2 separate regions of the Homo sapiens genome follow, and region 2 is linked to region 1. The links come from fine-mapping of genetic effects on plasma protein levels. A gene starts in region 1. The other region holds a variant in brackets. All regions are shown on one strand. Distances are between the middles of the regions.

Region 1 (15,449 bases):
AAAGAGGCACCAGACAGGACTCTGGGTGGGGGCACCCTGGTCTAGGAATTGCAGGGCTGTTGAAGAGAAGAGGAAAACAGTCCTGCCCTGGGGAGTCGAGCCTGATGGCAGAGACATGACTGGGTCCTGGAGAGCAAGGTCTGAGGGGGAGGTCTGGCCCTACCCTGGGAATACATCTGAGGGGTCAGACAGCCACACCACAGAAAACTTCCACAGCTCTCCAGCAAAACTGTCTTAGCATGGACCCCAGGGCTGCCCACAAAGTATCTGCTGAAGACATGAAGGGAGGGTGAGGGCTGCTGGCCCCTGGGTAGGAGCTGCAGCACTAGGGCCCGGACAATCCCATGCGGATCTGCAAGCCTGAGCCCAGTTCCCTTCAAACCCTAGCCACAATGGCTAGGGTGGAGGAAGCAGGGACTGTTCGTCCCATTTTGCAGGAAAACGAACAGGAGCCCAGGACCACGGCCTCCCATGACCCCCAGGTTCCTGGCCCTCCCACCTCTGTTCTTGGTGATGCGTATGGACTAGAGGGAATGACACCAGCTCAGCCCCAGGACAAGGCCTTGGCCCATTCTCCACCCCAGCCCCAGCCTGGGCTCCCGCACCGCCTGAGGCCCTCAAAAGGCCTGATTGTGCCCGGGAAGTGTCGAGCAGCAGCAGCTCGATGAATACATGAAAGGAAGCTTTGTTCAGGTTGGCAGGAGCGGGGGCTGGGGGCTAAGGGGCAGGAGGGCTGCCTGGAAGTGAAGGCAGCACCAAGCCATCAGGGCCAGGCCTCGAGTCTCTGCCCAGGCAGGGGCTGAGCAAGGCCAGGGGCTACCCCTAAAAAGGCCAGGCCAAGGGAGTATGTATCATATCCCTGAACATTTTCTTTGTGATGCTTTATGAACCCAAACGGAGAGGTGAGGTAGATAAAAGCTGGATGGGCCCTGAACAGGCCGGGAGGGAAAGCCAGGCAGAGGACGCAACCTGAGCAAAGGTGGGGAAGGTGGCTGTATGGAGGACAGAGGCCATGCGCTGCAGCCTGGCAGAGTCCTAATGAGAAGAATCGGGAAGGTGAGCTGAGGCCCACGTGTGATGGGGGAGGGAAGATGCAGCCTGTCCAAGGACACACTGACCCACTGCCCACCACTCTCCCCTGCTGCCTGAACCTACGAGCAGGGCCAGGAGTGGAAAATGCCTCCCCATCCTCTGGCGTCCCCCACCTCCTGGCTCCCCCTGCTTCCCATCCTGCTTGTCTAAAAGGAGCACCGTCTGGCACCGTGTCCCCCCCTCACTCCCCAGCCTGACGCATTAGTGGCTAAGTGGTAGCTAAAAGCTCCCAGAATAACCAGGGGCTCAGGTAGGGGAGGGGGCTAGGGACATATGGGGAGGGCATAGCCCAGAGGCAGGCCAGGAACAAGACAACCCACCTCCCGCCCCATGTGATTCCGAGCCAATCCTCACTCGTGCTGGACCAAGAAAGCACATTCAGGCTGCCCCGTACCCAGCCGGACTCCATAGTTCCCCTGAGTACCATTTCTCATGGTGGCAGGGCCAGCAAGGCCCAGCTCCGGCCAGATAGGAGGGCTGCAAGGATGGCTGGGTTGTAGGAGATAACCTCCACCAGACACAGCCGCAGGGCCGGGTGCTCACAGGGCTCTGATCCCATTGGAAAGAATGGGGCCTGACTCCTTAGGGACCCTACCCTCGATCACCACCCCAGCAGCTGACCGACTGTGGCAAGTCTGGGCCTCTGGCATGCATTTCCTAACTCAGGCCTGCCTGGTGGAGCACGTTTCCTCTTCTCATTCACTCTGGTGCTGTCACCGTCTGGCCCGCTGTCCCCATACTCTTGTTGTTTGTGAAAGAGGAGTGCAGCTCCAGGGGAGGGCAGAGTGGGAGGTGTTGTTGTCCATGAAGGGGCTGGGTCCCATGCTCTGGTCTGGCAAAGCCAGCCTTGCAACCTGACCCACTGACCCAGTGGGCCTTGAATGTAACCTCAAGGAGCCTTTTGAAAGTGGGCAGAGAGTCAGGCTCTGAAAATGGCAGGAATGTGGGCACCCCCACAGAGAATGCCTAAGTCAGGCAGTCAGAGAGGCCCCGGGCCAAAGAGCAGAAAGCAGGCCGACCTCAGGTTGGAGAGCCAGCACATCTGGCAGGAGCGTCCTCCCACAGTTGTGCCCCCACCCCTGCACTGCCAGGCCTACCTCACACCCTCGCCCAACTACGTGTCTGGAAAAGAGAGTAGAGGGAAGGCCCACGTGATGCCTAGGAATTAGCCTGCAGCCTCTCCACCCTTTGGAATCCCACATCCACATGTCAAGGTGGAAGGGAGAGGATCTAAACAGTCATTGAACTGAAGGACACAGAGGCCAGAGAGGCTGTACCACCGGCCCAAGGACACAGAGCGAGGGAAGCTCCAAGTTTCCAGTACCCATTACCCAGCTGCTTCTCTCCAGGATCACATCCTGGGCTTCCTGGAGAGCCTCTGATTTGCAAAAAGCTGTATATTCAGCCTCTCCCTACTTCCCTGAATCATCCCTACTCTACCCTTCCCTCTCTTGCTCACTAGGTGCCGAGTCACTAACCTGATAACTAAAGGGAATCACCCGCCCACCCACCTTCCAGGTGAGGCCCTGATCTCCTAGGGGCCTTTAGTGATCAAAGCCTTAAATCCAAAGGAGTGACTAATGGTGGAAGTGTAGGTGCCGTGCATGTCAGAGTGGTAGAGGAAACCCTTCCACTAGGGGTGGGAATACAGGAACAAATGTTTCTGTCTCTCCTGATATGGCCAGGAAGAGGGTGTGAGAAGCCTGGTTTCCAGGGTGGCACCGGCTCGGTGCTAAGGATAGGTCATGGTTGCAGGTGGGTCCTGGCAACTCTCAGGCAGGGTTAGGTTCTAGATTAGCTAGTCGCCTGGCAGGGGCAGAGCCTGTGTGCTGGGGCAGGTGGTGGGGCCTCGAGACAGCACTCAGCTCATGGAGGACTGAGAAGTCTAACTTGTTTATGAGCTATGAGAAGAGCGAGCTGTGTGCTGGGCCAAAGGGGAGCATCCTCCCACCCACCAAGGTCAGCTGTGGGTGGGAGGGGAGTATATCTCATGTGTGGCTCAGCCCTGGCTCCAAGAAGCCTCATTATCTCTTTGGTGGCTGGACAGCTGGCTGGCTGTGACGGTGATTGGGGCTGGGCCTTCCTGGGTTCATTTTCCTCCCTGTGGATTAGCTGGGTGCGAGTCAGGGTGGGTGCTGGTACTTGTTTGGGCCTGGGTTTTATGACCCACCAGGATTCTTGAAACAAATCACAAAACAATCAGGGTGAAGTCCATGGGTCTTTTTGGGAAAGTGTGACTCTCTGAGTGCCAGAGAAGTCAGACAGTTTTCTGGAAGTGGAGGCAGCAGAAGAAACTGACATTCTCATCTGCTTCCACTGACCAGCCCACCAAACCTCCAGCCACCCTGCAAAGAAGGCAGGACAACCTGTATTGCCGTTTTACAAACAGGAAAACTAATGCCCTTCCAAGCCACCAAGGTCTGGATGCTCTCCCCATGGCACCACTGTGCTCAAAGGACCAGAAGAAGGTTTGGCTATTGGGGAGACTGTCTGGGGCAAAGTCCTAGGGAGAAGGGACAGTGTGGAAAGCAAGCCCCTTGGTGAGAGGCTGTGCTGAGCAGGATTCAGGGACTCAGGGAAGGAAGGCTGGCACTGAGGCCCAGCTGGAGTGGGTAAGATGCCCTGAGCCCACGCCCAGGGAAGGCCGGAAGCCCAGGACAAACATCATGTCCCATCTACCTTCCAGCTGTTCTCCAGCCCAGCAGGTTCCAAAAGCCCCAGAGTGGGGCCGAAGTCGCTGGTGGCTCCTTCAAAGCAGACAAAGGGTAGCGGTGCAGGGCCTGCCCTTGGGCCCACAGCCAGGGCAGGGGTCGGGGAGAGGGCGGAGAATGGCTACACAACCCCAAGTGGAGGGAGGGAGGCAGGTGGAAGACTGCTGAGAAACAGAAGGTTCCCCAGTCTTAGCCTTAGCCTGAACCAGCAGGGGAGACTGAGCAAGGGCAGCCAGCCAGCAAAGCCCATTAGGGAGAACTGGCAGGGGCTGGGCTGCCAGGGCTGCATTCCATCAGAAACCAGAGATGCCAGAGGAGGAGGAGGAAGATGATGACGACGATGATGATGCCCCTACCACCCAACCCTTCCATCGCATTTACTACGTGCCAAACACTATTCCAAATGATTTTTAGATATATTAACTCATTTAATCATCACTGAACTCTCATGAAGTAGGTTCTTTTATTATCCCCATTTTGCAGATGAGGACCATGAGACACAGAGAAGCTGAGTAACTTACCCAGCATTACACAGCTAGTAAGGGGTGGAGCAGAGGTTCATACTCAGGCAAGCTGACTCCAGAATCTGTGCTTATAACATCGTATTCCAGAGATGAGCCCTTGGAGGCTTCCAAGGTCAGCCCTTCCCAGACAGATGAGGAGACCAAAGCCTACCGAGGGTGAGGCCCAGTTAGAGGCTACTTGGCTAATGAAGTCCTGACCTCTGCCCGTAACACCCTGAAGACAGTGTGTGCAAGTGAGCACAGGTGTGCAGGCCCAGGTGAATGTAGTGAATTCCTATGCTTTGATGTTGCCCTGGCATCCGTTTTGAATATAAGCTGGGTTTTCTCACACTAGAAGCAGGGCTCAGTCAACCTTGACACCGTTTCCAGCTCCCCACCTCCTCCCAGTTCCTCCATGTGCTCAATCCAGATATCTACCGTAGACAGTCGTCTCCTGGTGACTGCTTCCCTGTGGGATGGCTACATACAGCCCACTTGATTGGTCCTGCTGACCTTGTCCCACAGCCCGCATGGACTGTGCAGATAGGCCAGTGACCTTGTCTCAAGTCACAACATGACCTCCTGGAACTCATGACTGCTTGCTGTAAACCCACCAATTAAAACTCCCCATGGAGGCCAGGCACAGTGGGTCATGCCCATAATCCCGGCGCTTTGGGAGGCTGAGGTGGGCAGATCATTTGAGGTCAGGAGTTCGAGACTAGCCTGGCCAACATGGTGAAACCCCATCTCTACCAAAAATACAAAAAAATTAGCCAGACATGGTGGTGTGCGCCTGTACTCCCAGCTACTTGGGAGGCTGAGACAGAAGAATCGCTTGAACCCAGGAGGCAGAGGTTATAGTGAGCTGAGACCACGCCACTGCACTCCAGCCTGGGTGACAGAGCAAGACTCCATCTCAAAACAACAACAACAACAAAACAAACTCCCTGTGGAAAACTTGTTTTAATAACACCATGGACCCCATAAAGATGCTGGCCCATAGATCCCCCCACCCTGCACATGCTCCCTGACCTCCACCTGTGTGTGGCTTCAGGTACACCAGGTATCCCTCAAGACCTGTTAGTAACAAAATCTTTATTTCCACCTGCCTCTCTCTTAATCATGGAAGAGGTGCTCTCCATCTTAAAGATCCTAAGTTACAACAGTGGGGCAGGAATCTTCTCGAGGTGCAGCGTGGGGCCCCGGTCCTGAGTGACTGATTAGAAAGACAAGTCTCCCAAGATCTCGCTCAGAACATAAAGTACTCTGTGGGGCCGGGTGCCATGGCTCATGCCTGTTATCCCAGCACTTCGGGAGACCAAGGCAGAAGGATCACATGTGTTCAGGAGTTAGAGGCTGCAGAGAGCTATGAATGCACCACTGTACTCCAGCCTGGGAGACAGTGAGATCCTGTCTCTAAGAAAAAAAGTACTGCATGCTCTGAAGCTGACCACAGTGAAGGGCAGAGTGTGCTCACCAGCCAGGTCCCCACTCAGCCAGCCCTGGCGAAAACACTCACCTCCACTCCTCAGCTCAAGGACCCACCATGGCTCCTAACTGCCCATCCAAGCAGGGCCCAAAACCTCAGGGCAGGGCAGTCAAGGCCCACCTCATCTCTGCACAGCTCTGCCATGGCTCATTTCCATCTCTGCACTTTGCTCCTGTTCTCCCCTCCCTGGATTGACCTTCCTCCTTTTCTCTGTGCACATGGATCTTACCTGTCCTTGAAAATGTAGCTAAATCCCTTGGATCCAGGAAGTATTCCAGACTGCTCCAGCCCTCACTGCCCGTACCTTCGACCTTGTACCACAAACCATCTGGCACCACCATCTTCGCTCAGATCATGCTGTCTGATGGGATTTCATCTGGCCTATGGGGCCCTGAAGGTGAGGACCAGGCTTCCTCTTGCTCCAAGTCTTCCATTCCCAGGGAGCAGCTCAGACAGTGGAGAGAAGCAAGACTGGGGCAGGCCAAACTCCCATGCCAGAGGGACAGGTATCTTAGAACAGATTCCTGGGCCACCAATGGAGTGCAGAAGTCATCACAGTGACCTTCCTTCCTCGACAGGCTGGGCCAGAGCTCCTGCCTCAGCCTCCCAAGTAGCTGGGATTACAGGCGTGTGCCACCACACCCAGCTAATTTTTTTGTATTTTTAGTAAAGACGGGGTTTCACCATGTTGGCCAGGCTGGTCTCGAACTCCTGACCTCAACTGATCTGCCTACCTTGGCCTCCCAAAGTGCTGGGATTACAGGCGTGAGACTCTGTACAAACAACAATATGAATAGCTGTCTATGCTGCACTCTGCCCCCACCCTATGCTCCTGCCCCTAGCTCTAGCCTGGCTCCTCCTCCTCCCCCAGGAAGCCTTCCTTGATTGCACCATCCCACACTGACCTTTCCTGCTCTCACCTCCTGTCACAGTCCTAGGCTACATCTGCAGGTCATTCCTGACCTCCCCAGGGGTCCGCCCTACTTCACAGGCAGAAGACTCACCTCTCCAGGAATGTGGGGGCTCCCCAAGGGCAAACCCAGGGCTTCTCTTCCTGCCTCTCCCCCAGAGGAGCCGAACACAGACCTAGGCTGGCTGCCCTCCATGATGAGGGGTCACCCAGGGGTGCTGGCACAGAGCCCAAGCCTCTGGCTGGAAGCATGGGGTGCAGAAGGCATGGCAGGATCAGCATAATCCCAGGCTGTCATGACAGTTAAAACCTGATTAGCCCGAGCCGGGACACAGATCAACCTGTCCTTGGGACCTGAGGCCCAACCCACCTGAGGAAAGACCAGAAGAGGTATATGGAGCTGGTCCAAATCCAAGGTCCTGAAGAGAGGACACTCACAGCTGGTGTGGCTCCTGGGAACAGACAGCACTGGGGCGGGAAGAGTCTGGGCCCAACTGGGCTAGCAGAGGAGGAAAGGCACTGAAGGGGCCCCCAGCCTGGGACAGAGTATGATGGCAGACAGAAAGCTGGAAACAGGCTGAGAGCTGGGGCAGAAGCAGGCTCAGACGACTCAGCCCCGGTCCCAGCTCTGCCTCTTTGGGTGATCTCGGGCCAGTCCCTGTCATCTCTGAGCCTCAGTTTCCCCATCTGTGGAATGTTTGGCTGGCCCAGCTAATCTCTGACATTTCTTTTCTGACATCCTAAGCTCGCGCTGTCAGGCTGTGTGGGTTGGGGTCATCCAAGAAGGTTCCTCAGAGGAACTGAGAAAGAACCAGCAGCCTCCTTTCTGGGCAGAAAGGAGGAGGAGGGTGAGTGGGGTGCAGAGAGGAGGCGGAGCCAGGGAGCAGTGAGGGAAGAACTGTGGGAGTCTAGGAGGCAGTGGGGCCAGGCCACCATGCAGGGCCTGGGGAAGGCGGCAGCTGTGTGCCATGTGTTCTGGATGGGGTGCAGCATAGGGACAGAGGTCCTCCGGGAGGCTGGGCACAGATCTGGAGAGATGGCAAGGCCAGGGCCAGGGAGAATAAAGGGCTTGGAGAGCCACCCCATACCATTCGGGGCAGAGAGGGGACAGTCCCTCAAGGCCTGGCTGGCTAGGGAAGGGGGAACTCTGTCCTCTGAGGAGGCAGGGCCCAACAAGGTGCCGTGGCCCTCCATCCCCCTGCTTTCTTTCTGGCCTGCCTGGTTCCCTGAGGACAGGACAGCTGGCCATACACCTGGTGGCTGGCCCTCCCTGCAAGGGTACGGAACCCTGGCTCTTCTGAAGGCAGGACAGGTTAAGGGCCCCTTCCTCCCCCAACCATGGCGAAGGAAGGCTCCTGGGGCAGCCACGCTGGGCCAAAAAAGGAAATCAAGAGAAGTGGAAACTTTTCAGTCCAGAGCTGCCGACCAAAGCAGGGGAAGTGCAGTCAGTCTCTTGTGACAGAGCCGTGTGAAGCTGGGGGTGGACAGGCTATCAGCTAGTGGCCCATCTACTCCAGCTACTGCCCCCTGAGGGCTGCCAGACCTGCCCCCTGGGCTGAGCTTCACATCCCACCTTGCTTGGCCCTCCTCAAAAAACAGAGCCCAGCTTTCCCTGCTTCCCCCAGGGCGCCACCCTCAGCCCAGATAGTGACCTATCCATGCCACCCCCACCCTGCCACCTCCATGCTCCTTCCATCTCTGCAGAGGAAGAGCAGGAGAAGACAGAGCTGAGGGACAGACCTTCTCACCTGGAGACTGTCCTGCGGTCAGGAGTCAATGGGGAAAGCCATGGTCTCCCTGGACCCAGAGCCAGCCTCCCACCAGGGAACTGTGACGGGGCTATGGCCTTGCCAGCACTCGAGAGGCCTTCCCTGCCTGCCACGGCCCTTCTCCAGTGGGTGCGTCCTTCCTCCTCACTGCTGCGCCAGTCATAGGATGACAGGTATCCCCTCACCTATGCCCATCTGGACAAGTTTCAAACTTTTCGGGAGCCCCCAGGCCCAGGCTGACTCAACGCCTCTTCACATGGGGGCCCCTCACATGGCTTCTCTCCTCTCTGTGGTCCTAGCTGTAAGTTCTTGGGTTTAAAATCCTACTAAGTGGGGTGCTTCCTCCTGTTCCTTCCCTCCCCCAGCTGGCTCCTCCTCCTGCCATTTCAGCTTGCTCCCTCTTCCAGGAAGCCCTCCCTGATTGGGAAAATTGGGTTAGGCATCTCCTCAGTGCCCATAACTGCTCTCTGTTACACATTCTGTTGTACCTGCAGGTTTATCTGCCCATCTACATCTACACTGAGAAGTCTACAAGGGCACGGAATCATCTTGTTCCTCATCACCAGATCCCCAAGCTCATCCCCAAGACCAGCACAAGGGTGGCCCCGGCAAATGTTTGCTGAATGAATATGTCCACCCTTGAGGGCACATGCTGATGATCCATTTCCTCCAAATGATCCTCAGCCTTTGGCCCACGAGAGAAAAAGATAGGAAAGAACGCGAACTTAAGGGTTTCCCCTGACTTCCCAGGTTTCAATTTCTCCTCCAGATTTCTCGAAATCTAAGATTTAAACAGGCCACCACAGACTCTGCCCAGCCCCTCCCATCCCAGAGAGAGAGAAATCCTAAGACATTAAATCTCAGAAAAGGATGAGCCCCCTCCCCTACCCTCTTTGGGCATTTGGGGAAACTGGGGTTCAGTAAAAGGCAAAGACTTGCCCAGTCACAGAGCAAATTAGGTCACAGCCTGAACCAGGCTCCCGACCTCCCAGCTCTCTCCCCTATACCATGGTCATCATTGGACCTGTGCCAGCGTCCATTCCACCGGACCTGCTCTCAGAATCTTCACTGTCCAGGACAGAGGGGTCACAGAGCTTGGTAGGAAGCTCCTGGTGACCTCACCAAGCATCTCTCTTGGCTTAGGAAACTCCCCCTCTCCTCCGGGGAATTGCCCCCCCACCATGAGACTCTGTGGAGGGAGTTCACCTTGAAGGTGATGAACACATCTAAGTCCCCAAGGGGGCAAGGATTTCCACTGGAAATGCTGATGCTTGGGAAGCCCCAGATGTGACCTCATCCCCTGGAGGAGGTAACAACAACCTCCTGCCCTGGGGAGCAGCCCCAGAATGGCTCCCCAGCAGCCACCAAGTCAACAATAACATCCCGTTGTTTCACTGGACAAAAGCGAGGGAGGGCAGAACCAGCCGGGCAGGTTGAGACTGGGGATATGGGTTCTGTTTCCCCATGGACAGGCTGGTTCACCTCTGACCTTGGGGTTCCAAGCCTTCTTTAGCTCCTCCAACCACTGATAAAATGGAAGAGGGGTGCACAGCTTACAAACGCATGCCAACCTCCTGCTAAGCCCCAGCCCTCACCTGCAATCTACTCCCTTACAGTTCCTGCTTACAGGAAGATCAGGACCACACATGCACATCCTTGACTGGCCCATGTGTCAGTGACAGCCCTTGGGGGACAATCCCTACAGCCTTTCTTGCTCTGGCAGGCTCTAAGGGTCAAAGACAAGTGTGGAGCTCAAGGACACCCAGCAGGTACATGATGGCCCATCTCTCTCCCTGGCCTGAGCTACGCTGTGCCAGACTTTCATCAAGCTGCAGAGGCAGCAATCTCCCTGATCAGTGCAGGCTGGGCCCCTCTCAGAGTTCCCTGCTTTAATCTTTCTCTAGAACTTGGGGATCCAAGCAGCAGAAAATAAAGAACTTTCCATACCTATTCCAGTCCCCACAGCTGTCCTGACTCAAAACTAAAACCCCCATCTATGCCTCATAGAGAAATGGCTCCAGAACCACCACCATCCCTGATTTTGTCATTCCTGGATACCACCATACTCCCACCCACCACTGGTAGACAGAGCTCTAGGCTTCCAGAAAGACCCCCTCTTACCCTGTTCCTGGGTTTGTCCTACCCAAGCCCATTCCTGTCCGATTGCCATGTGTCACCCCACAGGAGACAGGAGGCAGCTGTCAGTCGGGCACACCATCACCAGCTGGTGGCCCTGGGGGTGGGGGGCAGGTGAATGGCAGGGCCTGTCTGGCCAGTGGGGCACCTGGCACTGGTGAAGGAGACCACAGACTGTCGTTGGACAAGACTGGTGAACGGTTGGCAGACCCCAGCCAGCGGGGCTCAACAGTGCATTACTAAGCAGAGGGCACAGCCAGTGTGGCTACAGCAGTGAACTGCGGGCGGGGGGGTAGGCCATGGAGCTGTGCTGGGAGCTTCGAAAAGTGGGTAAGAGGACTGAAAGCAACTTTAAATAGCCTCAGGGTGGGAACTAAGTGCCCAGGATGGGATGTATGCATTAAGTGCTAAGAAGTGGGTGTGCATTAAGTGGGGTGGGGGTGGGGGGTCATGGGAAGACTTTGGGACAGGCAAACAGAGTCAAAATGCAAGGGGTTTGATGGAGGGAAAGATTCCAGAACACTCAGATGTGGCCATTTGTCCCCTCCAGAGTGCCCACACGCTATGATGTCCAAGACAGCCAAGGAGACTGAGGGAAGGCAAAGCTGCTGGGAGGGCAAAGGAAGCTTGGGCTGGAGCTGGGATGGCAGAGGGGTGTGCAGGCCTCCTCCATGTACAGGCGGCCGGAGCTCTAGCAGCACTGCTCGGCTTCCTCCAGGAGCACCTCAGGCTGGGTAGCCGAGCTGGTCCCCAGAGCACCTCATTCATGGTCCCTGAACCACCTAAATCCTTCTCCCCTCCCTAACCCAGAACCTGGACTGGTCCTGTGCCAGATCAGAGCCCCTGCCTGCACCTGGGCTCCCACACTGCTCAGTGACCTTGGGCAAGTCACATTCCCTCAGCTACTGCGGCAGTTCGGGCCACTCGTTTTGTGTATGGTTTTTTTTCCCCTCTGCTAATAATACCTGCCCCAGATAATGCTCAGACTCCCGCAATCCCTGCAAACTGCCAAAGGCATCAAAAGGCTCCCGGTGGGGCCAGACCCGACCAGTTCCCCCAGCCCCCACTGCGAGTCCCCCACCATCACGACAGGGGGGCCGCAGACACGCCAAATTTGGGGACAGAGCCGAATCGGACTGGGGGCGGGGAGGCATTTGTGTGCAATGCAGGGGAGGGGAGATCAGTTCCTCGCGGCAGAAAGCCTCAAACCCCCGCCTAACCGGCTTTCTGTCCCATAGTACAGGGTCTAAACTGAGGTGCCCTGGGGGAGACTCCAGTCCCCCAGGTTCTTATTATCTACCCTGGCCTAAAGGCTGCACCCCCGCCCTAGATCCACCGCCTGGGGGTCCCAACGGCCGTGCCCCACCCAACGGGCACTGCCCCCCAACGCTGGAGCCGATTTCTGGTGACAACTGCCACGTGCGGGCAAGGGGGGAGCGGCCGGTCCCGGCATTGCTGAGGCAGCGCCCTGGTACCCCAAGCCGCCGCACCGCACCATGTCCCGCCGCTCGCTGCAGGATGCCCACCCCCTTGCCTGGCCCGAGCTCCGGGCCGGGGCGGGGGCGGGGGCAGGCGGCGGGGTCTTTGTTCCCGCTGCCGAAGCGCGGCGGCGGCGGCAAGGGGTCCGCGCCCCCCTTGCCGGCCCAGCCTGCGCCCCGCGCGCCAGCAGAGCCCGCAGCTCAAAAGGAGGGTACCCGGGTTGGGGTCCCAGGCGGGGAAAGGTCCTCCGCCGAAGCCCCCGAGCCAGAGGACCCAGAGTGGCTCGGGGCCGAGAGAGGGGCCCGCCCCCTCCCCTGGCGCCCGGGCGTTGCGGCTCCTGGCTGCCAGGGACTTGGTGCGACTTAGCCGGGGCTCCGGCCCCCGCCGCTCGCTCGCCGCAGCGTTACAGCCGGCTCTGGTGTGCCAGCGTGTACACTCACACACACTCACCCAAACCCACACGCTCCACGCGGGGACAGCGCGGGGACAGCCCGGGACCCGCAGAGCTGCGCGCACGCACTCCCTCCGGGTGCAGCACACTCCGCACCCGCCCCGCGCAGCGTCTGATCCCGCGCCTGACCGGCCGCGCGGCGCCGCCTACCTTTCCAGACGGCGAAGATGCGGGGTCCGCTCCTTAGGTGGCCCTGGGCGGAGGCGGCGGCCGCCCAGAGCAGCAGCAGCAGCCGCAGCCGCAGCGGAAGCCCCAACCGAGCCGGCGGGCCAGGGACGCGGGCGCGCGGTGCGCTGGGGGCGGCACGTCCGGGCGGAGGAGGCGTCATCCCGTGGCCCCGGGAGCGACAGCGGCAATCAGCCGAGACTGAGCCAGCGCCCGGCCGCAGGCAGACCCAAGCGCCAGGAGGCGGAGCCAGCGCTGACCCCACCCCGCCCCTCCCCCCGCCCCTCGCAGCCTTTTCTCGCCTCACTGGCTTTCCTGAGCGAGAGCGGAACTGCTGGGGGAACCTTCGCCACCCTCTCCCGGGCAACTCTACGGGGAAAGCCCAGCTGCGGACAAGCCAGACTTGTGGTCTTCTGCCAGGGGCGGCAGGCCCTATCCCCTCTCTGGGCCTCAGTTCCACTCCCCGCACCCCGTAAAAAGATTGGCGTAGAAGTCGTGGAGGACCTCTCTCCAAGGGCGCAGAGGAGTCCAACACCCAACAACCTTGCTATGGCCAGCTAAGTGGTTCGCACCCTGAGGACTATGGTCCTCGGAGGATGCGTTCGCCTAAGTGGACACGGCTCCCTGCTGAGCCTACCAGCAGGCACAACGATGATATGTGGGGAGCACTCAGGGACCCGCTGTTGCTTTGCCTGGGAGAACACTGGAAATTTTTCATCTTGGCCTGGCTCCTTCCCCTCCCTCTCCTTTCTCCTCCCTTTCCCAGCCAGCAGCCTTCTGGGCTGCCTCCCCCCAAGCCAGCTGGTGTACGCTCAGAAAATCCAAACTCATTTCCATGTGAGTGGAGGGGGATATAATTAGGAAGGCCCCTTCCCCAAGTAGAGAGGGGAGCATCCCCCGTGCCCCACTCACTGTGGGGGAGGGAGGGTCAAAGCAGCTTAAGGGGATCTCTGCCCGCAAAGTGCCTAGGGCTCAGCTATCTCAGGCAACCTGACCATTCAGTGGGGACTCCCTTGGGGGGTCCAGGCCCAGACCCTCTGCAGTTACCTGAGCAGTCCAGCCAGCTCTGCCATCAGCTCCTCCTCTCAGAACTACGTGCCTGCCCTTTGTAAAAGGGTCTCCTCTCTCTAGACCAGACAGGGCCCAGACCTACCACTTCCACTTGTGCCCCAGGGAACCATGAATGGAAAATCCACCCAGCTCAGTAAGTACTTATCTAGTGTTTACTGGATGTCTAGCTGCACTGAGAGGAGACAGGCCGAGGAAGGAGTAGAGGTGAACATCCAACCTTCAGAACTCACAGACCTAGACACGATTCACGCACTGCAGACACCAGCAAAGGCGGTGGGCTGGCTGCCCTCTGCCCTCTGCCCTGCTCCATGGGGCCAGGACCATTTGGTTGTTGTTTTTACCTCCTGGAACCAGGAAAGTTTTGCTACCAAGAAGTTTGGCTTTACCATTCTACATTTTGCTTCCAGTTGTCCCCTCCTTCTTCCCTCAGAGTCCTGAGGCACCCCAGCAGGCCAGGAAGGTAAACTCAAGGTACCTCCAGAGACAGTGCAGAGTGAGGTTCCTGGCCCACTGGGTGAAGCCAACAGCCTCCTGATACACAGGGGCACACTGCCCCAGAGAGGGAGGCTGTGGACAGTCTAAGAGCTCCTCCTCAGGCCTGCACCTAAGCCTGTGGCCCTGAAGCCAGCAGTGGAGCCTGGCCCAGGCCAGCCTCTAAGATGGACATTCGGTTTCACCTGCTAGACAGGTATTGCCCTCAGTGTCTGTCCTCTCTATGCAAAGCTAGGGCAAACTAAGAAATCACCTGTCTCTGCCTTTTGGAACTAAGAATTCAAATGGATTCAAAATCAATGATAACACTGCCCATGTGCATGGCAACTCACAACACATAACCCACATTCACCTACCTCATCTCTGCCAGTCCTCCACTCTCTTCCTCTCACTGAGGGAGGGAGCGTAACTCCACTGCAGAGAAGAAAACTGAGGTACAGGGAGGGACAAGGACGGACCTGCCCGAGGTCAACCGGTAAATGGTAGAACGAAGATGGGTTTTCTGACTGCAATAACAATTGCTAACACTGTGGTTCCTATGTGCTGTGCCATCTCATAGCCTCTCCCAACTCATTCAATCTTCGCACTCCTATGAGATAGGAGCTATTAGTCACCTCCCTTTACAAATGAAGAAATCAAGGCACAGACAAGGGATGTGAAGTGCCAGGATCGCACAACTAGAGGCAGGACGGATTGAAACTCAGGTGGTTTCTCAAGGACCCACACCCTTGACTTCTCTCTGTGTGATGTACCCTGGCACTGCTGCCTCCTGTCTGTGGCTGAAGTCTGGGTCCAAACCATCCCCAGAAGGACCTAGATAGGGCCCAGGTCACCAGGTGCTGAGTAGGAGGGCAGACCAGGGAATGGGCTCAATCTCCCAATCAACAGAGTAGCAGATGGAAACTGGGGTAGATGCCAGATAATTTTTTTTCCAGACTGGGGGGTAGGGGGGAAGGAAGTAGTACTTAAGACCATCCTCCCCACAAGCCAGCCAACCTGGGGACAAAGGGCCAGGCGAGATGGCAGCCCACTCTCTCGGTTGGCTGCAGGCAGCCAGGGGAGGAGAGAACTAAGCCCATGACTTGAGGCAATAACTTTATAAAGGGAAAGGCAGCTAGACTGTGGGGCAGGCACTATGACCAGAGTTTAGGCATGGACTTTCCTGCCTCAGGCAGCATAGG
Region 2 (15,449 bases), 29 kb before region 1:
TAAAACATGTGCCCATACTCCTGGCTCCTGAAACGCCCACCCAGATTTCCTGTCACCTCCCTGCCCACTCCATCACTGTCCCCTTCAAGGTTCCACTTCCTCCTCCTGGGGCCACCCTCAAAGAAGCCCCACCCAGGGGTCTGTCCTTGGCCTTTCTCCCCTCCCTTGCCTCCACCCTGGGAGACAGACCTCTCCCACCCCTAGCCTGCCCCTCCTCCTGCATCCTCAAGCCCCCCACCCTCTGGCTATTGAGGTCCAGACCACCTCCAGGATGTCCCTTGAGATGCCCTCCCTTCTCTCTCCCTTGTCCTCAGCCCAGATGCTGAAAGGGGCACCAGCTTTCACCCCTCCTGATTTCATCCAGTCTCAAGCCGTTAGATGCTGTCTGTACTGTCCACACCCAAACAGACGCCTGACTGTCCTCCCTCCCCCAGCCAGGCCTCTCCTCAGCCGCCCACATGACACTCCACTTGGATGTATAACAAGCATCTCAGCCGTTCCAGCTCCCGCTCCCCACAGCACCCCAACCCGCTTCCCCCACCACCGCATTCTCCCCACCCCCGGCTGGCAGCTTTCTCCTTCCTGATGCTCAGACCAAAAGCCTTCGAGGCATCCCAGACCCCTCTCCCTCTCCCATCCACTGGCAAACCCTACTGCTCTAATCTCAAAGGAGACCCAGAGTCAGACTGCCGCCCCCACCCTGGGCCAGGCCCCCATCATTTCTCATCTGGATCATTGCAGGAGCTTCCTAATTGGTCTCCCTGCTCCCACCTTTTCACTCCTGCCCCCAGGTGTTCCCAGCACAGTGGCCAGAGCCGTCCTGTTCAGATATGTCACTGGATCGCACCTCTCCAGTTGACGCTTCCCAATGGCTCCTGTGTCGCTCTCAGGAAAAGCCGGGGAATTATTGCGTGCCCTGGCCTCCTTGCCTGCATCCTCTGCTCTCCTCCCTGCACCCTCCTCTCTCTGGCTGCACTGCAGAGGCCTCCCCTGGGGTATCAGTTGAGGCAGGCTGGGGTGTGCTGTGGTGACCATCCCTACTCACTGGGCCTTAAAACAGAGAGGGGCATTTCTCATTCCAGCTTCACGTCATGAGGGTCAGCAGGGAGGGCTACGCTGCATCGTCCTCTCTCATGACCATGTCGGGGACATCTGGAGCATCACCTGCTTCCAGGCAGGGTGAAGGGAATGTGGAATCACTCGCTGACTCCTGCATGCTTCAGCTCGGAAGTGGCACGCATCTCTTCCACTCGTATCTCACTGGCCAAAGCAGATTACACAGCTGGGCCTAACCCCAAATGGAAGAAGTGTAGCCCTTCCCTGTTTCCAGAAGAAGAGACAGGCACTGATGGACAGGGGTGACAGCCTCCCCGCTGCTGTTCCTCGAACGCGCCAGACACGCCCCAGCCCCGGGCCTTTGCCCTGGCTGTTCCCTCTGCCTGGAGTGCCCTTCCCCAAACACCTGCACAGCTCGCCCCTCACCTTCTTTCAGTCTTTGTTCAAATGTCACCTTCTTGATGACGCTTTCCCTGACCACCTCACTTAAAACTTCAGATGTCTCCTGGACACGGGCTGCCAATCCCCCTTACCTTTACTTTAGCTTTCCACGGTTCTAACAGATTACCTAATTACATATTTCTTATGTCTATTACTATTGTCTGTTTCCATCAGCTAGAAGGAAAGCCCCTTGAGGGCAGGGGCATTTGTTGGTTTTGGTGACTGATGTAAGCCCAGCTCCCAGGACAGTACCTGGCACCCAGTAGGCACTCTATACTTTTGCTGCATGAATGAGTGAATGGATTAGGGGCCCCACTCACCACCAGGTCTCGTTCCCACATCCTTCAGAGCTTTTCAATCTACACTTGAATCCCCAACCCAAACTCGCTGCCTTCCCCAGGCCCTCACTGTTTCTCGTCTGGGTCCCCAACTCATAACAGCCCCTGACTGTCCCCGGTCTCCAGCAATCCCCTTCCAATCCAACACCGCTGTGAAAGGCAGGATAGCAAGGTGATTCTGGCGTGGGCTCAGGGTCCTTTCTCTGGCTCTGCTGTTTACCAGCAGTGTGACTTTGGACTGGTTCCTTAACCTTCCTGTGCTCCAGTTCCACATGTTGTGATAATAGCACTTCTCTCATAGGGGTTACAGTGCTGAGAGGTTTAAATGAGATGCTGCATGCAAAGCACATTATAAATGTGGATTATTGCTTTACACTTGCCAGATCTTGGTACCAGACAAAGGAGATCCGAATCTGCTGAAAACTGTCCCTTGGCTCCTGGTAGTTTTCAGTTTCTTCTCTGCACCCAGGGGCCCTCCCAAGCTGGTCTCCTTCTCACTTGCCTGGTCTGTCCCTTCTTGCTCCCGGTCCCACCAAACTCCCCAGGGCCTCCTGAGCCCGTCATGCTGCCTCCTGCCCTGGCCTGGGCATTGGGTGTTTTCTCTACTCTTCACTGACTTTTACTTGCTTTCTTACTTAACAGAAATCCCAGAGCTTTTTTGCACTTTCATACACAGAAAACTTTCAGATTTTTTTTTCGAGACAGGGTCTCGCTTTGTTGCCCAGGCTGGAGTGCAGTGGTGTGATCTCAGCTCACTGCAACCTCCGCCTCCCAGGTTCAAGCAATTCTCGTGCCTCAGCCTCCCGAGTACCTGGTGCACACCACCACGCCTGGATAATTTTTGTATTTTTAGTAGAGACAGGGTTTTGCCATGTTGGCCAGGCTGGTCTTCAACTCCTGACCTCAAGTAATCTGCCCACCTCAGCCTCCCAAAGCGCTGGGATTACAGGCGTGAGCCACCGCACCCAGTCTCACATTCTTTTTAGAGCTGTCTTGAATTCCATCATGGGGACATACCATTGGGATATATCAGTCCCAAGCTGATGGCTATTAATGTTTTTGATCTTCTGCCATCACAAGTATGCAGCTTGGTGTGTGTGCATCTGTCATATTCGTTCGGGTGTCTCTGTAAGACAGACTCCTGGAAGTGGGATTACTGGGTCAAAGGTAGCTAGTAAAGCACGACGGGCCTTGCCAGCCCAGTGTGCTCCCCACCAGACCCAGGATCTAGCCCCAAGTCTGAGTGATGCAGAATTCACGCCCTCACCTCTGTGCCATCCTGCCTCCTTCAGCAGTAGGGCTGGAGCGCATGGTGAGGGGCCAGTTCTACTTTCTGCCTCAGTCAGGATCGGTCCACTTGAGCGTGATATGTGGGGGCCGAGCCGGGAGGCGTTGGAGCTAGCCGAGGAGATGAGGCCAGCCCCCAAACACTTCCAGAACACTCTGAGCCTTCATGAAGGCTGCAGGAGGGAGCATGGCCTCTTGCCCACATTCTCCCCACCTGGGATCTTCTCTCTGGCGGCTGCCTCTGCCTCCCCATCAGCGCCAGAGCAGGACTGGCAGTGGCACCCCAGGCACCAGTGAGCAGGCTACAGGGTCCGTCCCCACCTAGGGCTGCATGGTCAGACCCCTTGAAGAGGGAATGGCAGAACCTCAAGACCTTGGGTGGAGGGCAGCCCAGGAGAGCCAGCCCCAGGCCATGCCATGGCTCCGTGGCTCATGTGGGCAGCCCCCCACTGGCCCTCACAGAGGCAGAGCTGAGTCAGCAGCCAGGGTCGGGGTGCCTCTGAGGCCCAGGCCTACTTCACTGGGAGGTGTCCCTGCACAGAAGTGAGAGGGCTCAGGAGGGGCCTGGCTCTCTGCCTCTGCTGCTTCAGGAAAAGTCCTGCTCCTTGGCTGAGCCCTCAGGGTCCTTCTCCAGCCCCCTGCCCACCGCCTGCCCTCCGGTCTCCTACACCCCCTCACACTCCAGTCAGTCATGTGGAAATGCTTGCAGTTCTCCACATGGGTTATTCCACTGCCTGCCTCCACGCCTCTGACCACGCAGCTCCTTCTTTTCCAGCTAACTCCCACTTGTCCGCAAAGACAATTCAAGAGTCCCTTGGAGCAGCCTGTTCGCACCTATGCACTCACACAGCACCTTGTTTGTTTAGACCCGCCCAGTGCCTCACAGCAACCCCATCTGGGTTCACTGTCAGAGCTCTGAGCCCACGGGGCTACTCGTCCCAAAGGCATACAGCATGTCCCAACATCTGACTTCGAAGCTGGGACAGGCCTGGCTCCGGGAGGGACAGAGGCTTCTACCTGGGGTAGCTGAGCTGTCCAAAGAAGTTTCAGCCATGTCGAGCCCCTGGCGTTGCCGAAATCCCCCACCCCACGGTGCCACAGCACCAGGGCAGCCCCTAGGAAAAGCCAGCCCCTCAGAGGCCCTGTGCTAAAGACCAGAAATTGCCCCTGGGTCTCCGCAGGAGTTCTGCAATGGGGAAGTGAGCCCTCCTGAGGCCTGGCTGGCAGGAGGCTCTTCAAGGCCAGCATCATGTGGACTTCCCCCAACCACTCGCGTTTCTGCACAGCAGCCACGGAGACCTGGGGGCTGCTGAAAAACGAGATCAGAAGGCAACGTCAGCCTGAGTGGGCTGAAACCTGAGATGAGGAAATGAGAAGACGTCAGGGGGCTGGAGGACATGGGTTTGAGGACAGCCAGCACCCAGCACTGCAGCTGAGGCCTCCTGAGGGAGCCAGAGGGAAAGCAAGTCCCCTCCCTGCGGCCTGAGTCTCTGCCAGTGCCCAGCACTCCCAAAGGATCCACCCCAACCTGAGAGACCCCAAAGACATTGGAGCAGCCCCAGACACCTCCTCCCAGGGCCACAAAGGCCCCTGACAAGCCCACAGCAGTCCAAGGCCTCCAACTGGAGTCATCTTTGGTAAATCTGGGGCCCATCAGCACCCACTGCCCTTCCTGGTGCCCTAAGCATGCTGGCAGGGGGACTGGAAACTGCATCCCAGTTTGCAGTGGGTGTATGTCTCATACACCCACAATACCTGATGTGGGCGTGACTCACCTTGGGGACCTGTGAGTCAATAAGGGTGTATGAGTAAGGGGCAGAGCATTTCAACTTAGTCCCATAGCACATGAGCTCACTAAGCAAACATTACCTATGTCTAGATTTGGGGCCAGTCACTACCCACTGGAGGCTGTGGGCTCCAAGGTATGGCAGCAGGGGAGGCCAGCCAGGCTCTGCCCAGCTTGCCCCTCCTTGTGAGGACGGACCCAGCCAGGCCTCCCGCATCCGCCCTTAGACTGGGGGACCCTGGGTGGGGGTAGAAAGGGGGACTGAAAGTGGTGTCTGGAGTTAAGCCCATCTCCTCATCCCCCACCATGGGGATCAAGATGGGGGCTAAGAGTCACCCCACCACCACCCCAACCCACTCTGAACGCAAAACAGAAGGGGACAAGCAAAACAGAACTGAAACTGGGCAAAGGAGAAACAGGTCTGGGCCCGCCCCAGGGACCTCTGTATCTCACCCCTTACCCATACACATCCTGACCAGGGCCTCTCCCCCAGCCTGGGAAAACCTTTCAAGCTTGGCCCTCTCTCACCTGGGCTCTCTCAGCCTCCTGCCCTCCCCCATCTTCCCTGCTCCCAGCCTCATGCTGCCCCAGGCCTCACCCCATCAGAGCTAAAAGGACCCCAGGCTGGGCATCTGTAGATCAGGGATCTGGTCTCCCTCTGCCACTACCTTTTGGGATGACCTTTGGGAAGTCATTCCCTTCTCTGAGCCACAGTTTCCTCATCTGGCCTGGGCTGTGGGCATAGAATCTGCAGGTGAGGGCTCTAATGGGTGAGTTTCAGGCCAGGCTGAGACTTTTCACATTATAACACTGAGGCACCCAGCACCTTGACTACCACTCATCCTGGGGACTTGGGAAGGGACAGAGGCTGGGATTGGACAGTAACAGCCAAGACCTTCCCAGGGCACAAACGCTGCCTCCCTGAAGCCTGCCCTGACTGTCCATGCAGGTCACTCCCATCACTTCACCTCCTCCTTCCCTCCACTCAGCACCAGCCACCACTGGGTCACATCTATGTCCCTTTGGCTCTGCAAGAGCAGCCTGGACCCCTGCATCCCCTACCCCAGCACAGGCCTGACACCAAGCAGGGGCTCAACAAAATATGTGTTGAAGGCCAGGCACAGTGACTCATGTCTGAAATCTCAGCACTTTGGGAGGCCAAGGCCAACAGATCTCTTGAGTTCAGGAGTTCGAGACCAGCCTCGGTAATGTGGTGAAACCTCATCTCCACAAAAGATACACAAAATTATCTGGGTGTGGTGGCATGCACCTGCAGTCCCAGCTGCGCGGGAGGCTGATGTGGGAGGATTGCTTGAGACCAGGAGACGGAGATTGCAGTGAGCCAAAATTGCACCACTGTATTCCAGCCTGGGTGACAGAGCAAGACCCTGTCTCAATGTCTCTCTCTCTCTCTCTCTCTGTGTGTGTGTGTGTGTGTGTGTGTGTGTGTGTTGAAAGAATAAAGGCAGAGAAAATAACAAGTGTTGGTGAGACTGTGGCAAGATTAGAGCCCTCACACTCTGATGGCGGGGATGTAAAATGGTATCACCTCTGTGGAAAGCAGTTTGTCAGTTGCCCAAAACGTTGAACACAGAGTTACCATGGGATTCTGCAGTCCCACTCCCAGGTAAATAGATGTTCCAAAGAGTTGAAAACATCTGATCACACAAAAACTTGTACACAAATATTCATACAGCGTTATTCTGGATATTATTATAACAGCCGAAAAGTGGGAACAATGTCCATGTCCATCAACTGAGGCACAGATAAGCAACATGGCCTAGCCACACAATGAGCTCTCATTCAGCAGTGAGAAGATGGGGCGTCCTGGTTCAGGCTACCACATGATAACCCCTGAAAACAGTATGCTAAGTGAAAGAAGTCAGACACAAAAGGTGACATGTACAATTCCATTTATATGAAATGCCTAGAAGCTGGATGCAGTGGCTCACGCCTGTAGTCCCAACTATTTGGGAGGCCCAGGCAGGAGGATTACTTGAGCCCAGGAGTTTGAATCCAGCCTGGAAAACATAGCGCGACCTCATCTCTGAATAAATTATTTAATTTAATTTTTTAAAAAATGTCCAGAAGAGACAAATGCATAGAGACAGAAAGTACATTAGTTGGGGGACAAGGAAAGGGGAAGTAACTGCTAACAGGCACGAGGTTTCTTGGGGGTGATGGAATGTTCCAGAGTTAGCTAGAGGTAGGTGTCATAGAGCATTATGAATATACTCAAAACCACTGCAATGTGCATTTTGAAATGGCAAAATTTGTGTTATATGAACCTTTACTCAATAAATACATAAATAAATAAATAATAAATAAATAAATAAATAAATAAATAAATAAAAAGGCAACAACAGCCACCCCAGGGACAGGTTTGGAAAGCCAAACTTGTCTGACTGGCTGGGTGGCTTGTCTATTTGTGTGTTTCTTAAAACAGCATCCTACAGGAGAACTATTCTTTGCTCAGGGAAACCCCCACCCCCTCACTCCACTCCTACCTCGAGACAAGGCCTCTGAGGAGCAGATGGGAGGAGAGGGGCTCTGGGGAAACATAGGGGGCATTGCAGTGGGGTGCTGCCCTCTCCTTGGGCAGGTGCCCCCATGATGAGCAGACTCAAGGTCCAGCTACAGTCCCAGCTCTGGTACAGGTCCTGTCCCTTTCCTCAGTTTCCCCATCTGCAGTCTGCCTCCCGGGGTCTTTCTGAGGTCAGTATGTAGCATGACAGAGCCTGAGAACTGCCAAACTGCCATGTTCTCTCAGAGACCCCTTTTTGGCATGCATTCCAGATGTGGGACCAGAGGTTGGGAAGTTCTTCCTTTGGTCTGACCACAGTATTCCACTTGGAGACAGCAGTGGGAAGAGGCCTTCCACTGAGTCACCCTGACTCAACTTTCATCAGCTTCAGGCCCCCCGTGGGGGTCCTTCCCC[C/A]ACCGGATGCTCACTTTGCTGTAATGGGGCAGGATGTGGGTTCCCTGCTGTGGGAGAGCAGCCCCCACAGCAGCTGCTCCCTAAGATGGTTCTGGCAGGAACCAATGAGAGGAGAAAGCTGATCCTCAACCCCTGCAGGGGCCCTGCAGCCCAAGCAGAGGGCCTCTCAGCCCACCTCGGTCCCAAGTAGGACAGATTGACAGGTGACCTCCCTGTCTCAGAGCCTCAGGGTGTCTTGGAACAAGTGATCCCATCATCTTCCTCTGAGGTCCAAGACTCGGGTGCTAATGGACTCTGTGTAGGGAACCCTGGTCACTGGGGCAGACTCTGTCCCAGACCTGATCTTTGCCATTTTGCCAGAGTGGCCCACCTGACTGCTTCTCTCTGCTGTGTGTATCACTTGTATTAACCGCGAACCCAGCAAAGAGAGCAGGAGCTTGGGCCGGGCACAGTGGCTCACACATGTAATCCCAGCATTCTGGGAGGCTGAAGCAGGTGGATGACTTGAGGTCAGGAGTTTGAGACAAGCCTGGTCAACATGGTGAAACCCCGTATCTACTAAAAATTAAAAAAAAAAAAAAATTAACCAGGCGTGGTGTAATCCCAGCTACTCAAGAGGCTGAGGCAAGAGAATCACTCGAACTCGGGAGGCAGAGGTTGCAGTGAGTCAAGATCGTGCCACCGCACTCCAGCCTAGGCAACAGAACAAGATCCTATCTCAAAAAAAAAAAAAAAAAGTAAAAGTAGAACCCCTGTTTCTTGAGGACAAAGATTAGATGCATCTTTTTGTTGTGAAATTTTGGTAAACTACTTACTCTTTCTCAGCCTCAGTTCTTTGAACTATGAAATGGAGACAATAGTAATAGTATCAACCTCAAAGGGCTGGTGAGAAAACTAACCAAGACAATTCACACAAAGTTTCAGAACAGTCCCGGGCAGGTGCGTGACTTACGCATTTGGCTTTTGTTCACCACTATTACTACTTGCTTATTGAAGCTGAGCCAGGTGGCTGAGCAATGTCCCTTTCTGGCAAGGAGGGTGGAGGCAAGTGTCACATTTCAGAAAGATCCCTGGGCTCCTGTTGAATCTGTCCCCACACCAAAACATGCCCGTGGGGGCTCTAGCTCCTGCCCCAGCAGCGAAAGGGGCTCCTCCTTCTCTGGTGCCCAGTCCTAGCTCACCTGCTCTTCACAAGCCTCCTCCCAGCACAGCCTGCACCACACAGGTGCTCAGTAAGGGGGTTGCTCTGAACAGGGAGCAGGCCCACATGCTGAGAGTGGTGGAGGCGTGCAGGCTCTGATGACCACCTGAACCCAGACTCCAGGGCAGGACAGGTCCTTACAGACCGTAAGGGCTTCCTGCCTACCCTCTTCCCATGCAGTTACCTCAACCCTGGGACACCAGGAAGGTTGAGCATTCCAGGAAAGCCCCGACCCACCCAGGAAACCCAAGTACCTGGTGGGGCCTCATCTGGCCCATTGTCCTGAAAGGACAGGAATAAAGGCTCTCTCCTCATGGCCACACACCCTAGGGACGTCCAGCCTCCAGCTTTCTGTGGGTGGGGCAAATGACTGAGGAGGCTTCCCTCCCTGCAGGCGCCTCCCTCTGGGGCCTCCTGTGGTCCAGTCGTCCCTGGTCCCCAGCTCTCAGGTGGGTCATAGGGCATCTCAGCAGGACCACCAGGAAGAGCATCAGGAGGGGAAGGAGCCAGAGAGCCCTCCAGGCCAGTGCACTGCTAACTCAACATCTCATCTTCCTATCTCGTCCCTTCTGCTCACCTCCGGAGACTCCCCCTCCCCTCTCATGCTCTTCACTGGCAGGTTATGATGGCCCAGAGATCCCCACCAGAGTCCCAGATATCAGTGGGGATCCCAGCCTATTCCTCCAAGCTCCCAGTTGCCAGTGACAGGGAGGCAGAAACAGCCTGGAAATTAACTGTGGGTTCTCCCTGAGCCTGTGGATACATGGAAAGAGAGCTTCACCACCACCCCCTTCTCTGAATATACATACAGGATCTGAGGAGGGAGGATTCTGTGTGGATGCATGTGTGCACAGATGTGCATGTTTGTACGTGTGTATGGGTGAGCAGGTCATACGTGTGGTCCCATGTGCCCACCTGTTGTATATATGCATGCTTGTTTTGTGTAAGTGAGCATAAGAGGTCAAGCCAGAGAGAGAAATAGGAACAAGGAGAGACAGAGAGAGAGAGAATAGAAACAGAGACCAACAGGGAAACAGAATGAGACTGAGACAGAGAACAACAGAAGGCCAGACAGGTAGACAAGCCACAGTTCCATCTTCCCTGGTGCTGGCTGCCAAGGCAGACAACTCTCCTCTCACTTCATTGATGTTCTGCCTGTGTTTATACCCATGATTGGGGTGGAGTTCAGGAAAGGATGTATCAGGGCTAGGACGCCCCCACCTCCACACTCACAGGGCCAGTCAGGGCCCTCTGCAGGGGCTGCCATTTCCTCAAGCTGAGGAATGGGCTTGGATCCCTCGGATGCCTTCCAGGGTGCAGGGGCGCTCCCAGTGACTGGGCTCTTGTGGTGGCTGGGGAGGGGGAGCTCCTCTGACAGGCCCCATGCTGGGGGAAACGTCCTGAGACTGACCTATCACGGGCTGACATGCACACCAAGGAGGTCTCACATCTGCTGGGAAATGAGGGGCTGGTGGAGGTGAGAAAACCTCAAGTTCTAATGCCTTCCCAACACCTTCACCTCACCTGAGAAGCTTCTAGATTCCACCCACCCCTGTTTCCTTGGGGGAGGGTGTTGTGTGGAGGTGGGAAGAGGCAGGAGTCCAGGTTCTAGGCCAGGCTCTGAAGGGGCAGGTAGCTCAGAGCAAGAGGCTGGCCTTGCACCTGCTCTGCCTAATGGGACAGTAATGCCCACGATGGCATTCCGCCTCTGAGGGCTGTGGTGAGGCTGTGGAGAGATGTCAGGGACAAGAAAAGGCCTTGGAAACCAGCTGTGGGAAGAACAGCCCATGAGCTCAGCATTTCCCCTGGCTTCCCCGAAAGCCGGCCCCCAGGAGAGGAAGGTGACTGTGACTTCTGCCGCCACCACTTCCTGCAGCTGGGACCCTGCTCACTCAGAATGTGGAACCGTCATGGGCCAGCAGTGTCACCTGCACACTCACTCCTGCCACCAGGAAACCCTTCTGCAGGGCAGGTCCCCAAGCCCCGTATCTCAGGTTCTGACCAGGATGTGTCCTCAGCAGTGGTCGCCCGACATTGATGGGAGGGACGGGTCCCAGCTGGGCATCAGGATATGGAGGGTTTCATTCCAGCTCTGCCACCAAGGTACTGGTTGCCTCGAGGCATTCCCCTTGCTGGACCTCATTGAGGAGACTTCCTGTATTGCTAAGCAGGCAGGAACCCCAGAAGCTCAGAGCCGGAAGGCACCAGGGCTTCCCACAAGATGTGGAGGACCCAAAACAGGGAGACAGGCCCTGGCACCTAAGCGTTCCTTCTGGGCTCTACACAAGGTGTGGGTGGCACCAGAGCTACTGCAGGCTACTTGATCCAAGGGGCAGTCCTGCTCCACCGTGGGCTGGACGAAGACATCATCTACTCCAGGGCATCCACGCGTGGGGTGGGAGCCAACAGACCTGCGGTGCTGCCTTCCAGCTTGGGACTGGCCCCCGTACTCCATCCCGTGCACCCAGCCCTTCCGGCTCACCCCTTCCATGGCATGTTGTGCTCTCTCGCACCCCATGCTTTGCATGTGCTGGTTTCATTACCTGCAACACCTTCACCCCACTTGTGTCTGGCTAGCGTCCCCTCCAGAATGGAGAGTGGACAAAACATGGGGTCTGGAATTCCAGGGGTCAGGGCCCAGGCTGTTAGGAAAGGCAGAGTGTGAAGCAGACCCTCAGCAGGCCTCACAGCAGGGAGTGCTGAGCTCAGGGTTCTCAGGGGCCAGGATGGGACAGACGCCGAGGAGATGGGGGTCGGTAGCTGGGGCAGATTGTGCAGACAGTCTGGATTGTGGAGGAGCTGCCGGGCGCAGGGCCCCACTTGGCGCGGGCGGCTGTGGGGGAGGCTGAAACTGCAGACTATTTTTAGGCTCCTGCTGAATTGAGAGATGAGGATGCTCTGGGCTACAAGCCCTCATTCGCTGGGGAAAGACTAAGGGGGCCCCAGTTCCCCCGATCTGCCCCCAGAGCTCAAAGTCTCCAGAGCTTCCTCTTTTGTCTCTAGGGACCAAGGGCTGGGGTCAGGAAGTGGACTGGAAGTATCCCCAGCACCCTAGATAGGCAAACACCCACAAGAAGTGATTTCCATACCATTTGCACACTGCCCTGCTTCCTGATCAGAAGGAACGGAAACGTTCCCTTTCAGAAGACCCTCAGCGGAGCAGTGCATTCACCAGAGTCCACTTTCACCTGCCCCACTGGGTATCAGGAGAGTCCCAGGAGAGCGACACAAGCTCTAAAGTCAGAAAGCACAAACGGGGGTTGTTAGCACTGTGGTGTAGCATCCGCTAGGCTCGGGGTAGCAAATAAGTTCCATCTGATCAATTGCTGGTGACTCCTAAGGAGAAATGCTGGTGAGGATCCATTCATTCATTCCACAAATAATTTACTGACCACCTACTGTGTGCTAGGTGCTACTCTAGGTGCTATGAAATTTAGCTGTGAACAAAAAAAGACAAAATTCCCTGCCCCCGCAGAGCAGATATTCCGTAACAGTGTTGTCCAACAGAAATACAATATGAGCCACACACATAATTTAAAATGTTCCAGTAGCCACACTAGATAAAAGTTAAAGAAGACCAGGAGCGGTGGCTCACGCCTGTAATCCCAGCATTTTGGGAGGCCAAGGCGGGCAGATCATTTGAGGTCAGGAGTTGGAGACCAGCCTGGCCAACATGGTGAAACCCCGTCTCTACTGAAAATACAAACATTAGCCGGGCGTGGTGGCGGGCGCCTGTAATCTCAGCTACTCGGGAGGCTGAGGTAGGAGAATCGCTTAACCTGGGAGGCGAAGGTTGTGGTGAGCCAAGGTCCTGCCACTGCACTTCATTCTGTGCTACAGAGCAAGACTCCATCTAAAAAACAAAACAACAACAACAAAAAAAGTTAAAGAAATAGGTGGAATTAATTTTTGTATGTTATCTAGCCAAATATATCTTATATCTGAAATATTATCATTTCTTTTTTTCTTTTTTTTTTGAGACAGAGTTTCATTCTTGTTGCCCAGGCTGGAGTAAAATGGAGCAATCTCAGCTCACTGCAACCTTTGCCTCCCAGGTTCAGGCGATTCTCCTGCCTCAGCCTCCCAAATAACTGGGATTACAGGTACACGCCACCATGCCCACCTAATTTTTGTATTTTTAGTAGAGACAGGGTTTCACCATGTTAGCCAGGCTGGTCTCAAACTCCTGACCTCAGGTGATCTACTGACCTCAGCCTCCCAAAGCTCTGGGATTACAGGTGTGAGCCACCACGCCCAACCTCTAATATTATCATTTCAAAGTGTAATCGATGTAAAAATTTAAGGTCATTTTTTTCATATTATGTTTTCAAAATCCAGTGTGTTGTTTATACTTACAGCACATCTCAATTCAGATGAGCCCTATTTCAAGTGCCCAGTAGCCCCCAGAGAATGCAAGTTCTGAAGAAAATCACTCATATGAGCTCAGGAAAGGAATGCCACAATTGATCAGCAATGCCTGCTCCAGGCATAGGCTACAGCTGAATCAAGCTGCAAGCCATGTGTTTCCCCACCATGATATAGGCTCAGCCCCAAAGGACGTGTTCACCTCTACCTAAGCCCTTCTGAGCTCATTTATTTTGCCCAACTTGAAAGAACTGCCAGAGTTCTGGGACCTTGACTTGGTTCGAGTGCAGCGGTTCTGGTGTGAACACCACCCTACAGAAACGCCCCAGCATACTAACAGGGCCAGCGCCTCCCGAGTGTGGTTCTGTGCTCCTTCCCTTGGTGGGGGCTGACTCATGGCCATTGGTGACCCTGAGAATGTGGATTTTGTTTTTGTTTTTCTCCCAAGGTCTCTTCCTCCCAGAGTTAACCAATATTGAGATAAAAGTGTTTCCGAGCCAGATTTAGCCATTTCAGCCCCATTCCACTGGCCCAAGCCTACAGACCTCCTGTCTGGCACTGTAGCCAGGATGGCTGCACTTTCTTTTCCAGTAAGCAGAAGGCTAAAATTGGACCATTTAAGGAGCTAGAAACACCTGGAAATGGTGAGGAGTGGGTCTTTGGTGTAAGAGATGGGGTGTAAGAAAACACGGATCTCAGGCTCCCATTATCCTCACCATTATTATCATTATCATCTACCCCACCCCTGCTCAAAATCCTTCAATTGCTCCCTAGTGTCTGCAGGATAAAGATCTTGCTTTAGTTCCCAGGATCGGGAACTGCTGGAGTCATCCAGTCTCACCTCTAGATACTCTCCCTTCTCTCATCTTATTCATTCATTCAGTAAGAATGTCCTGAGCACCTAATATGTGCCAGGCACTGTTCTAGGTACTAGAGATACAGCTGTGAACAAAACTGCCAAGGATTTCTGGCTTCATGGAGCTCACTTTACTCCAGCGAGCCCATAACACCCCAGGCCCTCTCACACTCCCAGGCCTTTGTAAATGCTGTTCCCTCTCCATTCAGTCACTCTCCTCCTGGGGAACTTCTACACATCCTCTAAGGCCCTACTCAAAGCCTTCCCTGAGCACTCCGCTCAATGGGTTAGGTTCCTCCTCTGAGCTCCCACCTCCCACCTAGGACCGTCACACGTATGGTCACTGTCCAGCCCACAGCCCTTCCCTACCAGGCTTTAAGTGTCTCCAGGGCAGGGGCTGTGCCTTCTCCCCCAGGGACCCCAGAGCTTGCTTCCAGGTGCACCCTCCCAAAGATCAGGAGTGAACAGGCTGAGGCATTAGTGTAGGGGGGATCCAGGATTCCTCTGGAGAATTCCATGTCATTCTGAAATCTTTGCCTGGGAGCATCTTCCTCCTGGCATTCCAGGGGAGGGAATCACAGGAGCAAATGCAGAGCGGTTCCAGCAAAGGAAGGTAGAAGTCTGAGGAGAGATGGGAAGGGTATGATTTGATGTAGCAGAGAGACAAGAGGACAGCAGCCTTCCCTCGGGGAGAGAGGATGACAGGACATGTGGATGGGGGATAAACCGTAATGACTCTACATTCCTAAAGTGGGAGGGAGGCAGAACGAAATCTGCAGTTCCCTGCTGCCTTCCCCAGGAGAGCTGAGCTTTCAGTCTCGTCCCTCTTCCTCCTCCCCAACGAGAATGCACAAGAGAGGGGAGAAGGATGGGCCTGGTTCCTGCCCCTGGCCTGGCTCTGGTCCCTGGCCTGGCCCTCAAGAAGCCAGTGCTGGGACTGTGGATATCGTGTGGTTATGGCTAGAGCAGATCCTCCCACCACCCGGGCCCAGCCTAACCGTCCTGCCCACACACCGCCAGCTAGAGGCCTGCTGTGCTGCTTGTCCATTGGGGAAAACAGGGCAGGAGGCTTGTGCCTGGCTGGCCTCATCCCTGCCAGCTCATTTACATGGAATTTACACGGGCTCATTTCATGCCTTAATGCACACGGCTTCCCTCCCAGCCCAGCCTCTCCTGGTGCC

What was found. PIP is the chance, under the fine-mapping model, that this variant and not a neighbour inherited with it causes the effect. Protein levels are from antibody-based Olink assays in UK Biobank. Linkage for the fine-mapping came from a reference panel and not from the study's own genotypes, which makes the PIPs less certain.
Region 2: its variant is fine-mapped to the plasma level of the SEMA7A protein (UK Biobank, PIP above 0.99).

The regions. Positions count from the first base shown.
Region 1 is chr15:74,421,051-74,436,499 of GRCh38, forward strand. SEMA7A (semaphorin 7A (JohnMiltonHagen blood group)) reads right to left here and starts at 12,908. Exons shown (of 14, transcript NM_003612.5): 1 at 12,691-12,908. The coding sequence starts at 12,868. RefSeq lists enhancers at 543-1,174, 1,878-2,172, 7,962-8,051, 8,672-8,751, 8,792-8,891 and 1 more and silencers at 12,071-12,190, 12,341-12,490, 12,541-13,050.
Region 2 is chr15:74,392,225-74,407,673 of GRCh38, forward strand. LINC02255 (long intergenic non-protein coding RNA 2255) reads left to right here. Exons shown (of 4, transcript NR_146881.1): 4 at 1,083-2,532. Among named protein-coding and RNA genes, the nearest start is that of MIR6881, 11 kb to the right of the region's middle. RefSeq lists a cis regulatory region at 110-664, enhancers at 4,037-4,106, 4,127-4,196, 4,247-4,596, 4,278-5,477, 4,647-4,846 and 15 more and a silencer at 10,743-10,952. The variant C/A (reference allele first, on the strand shown) is at 7,847.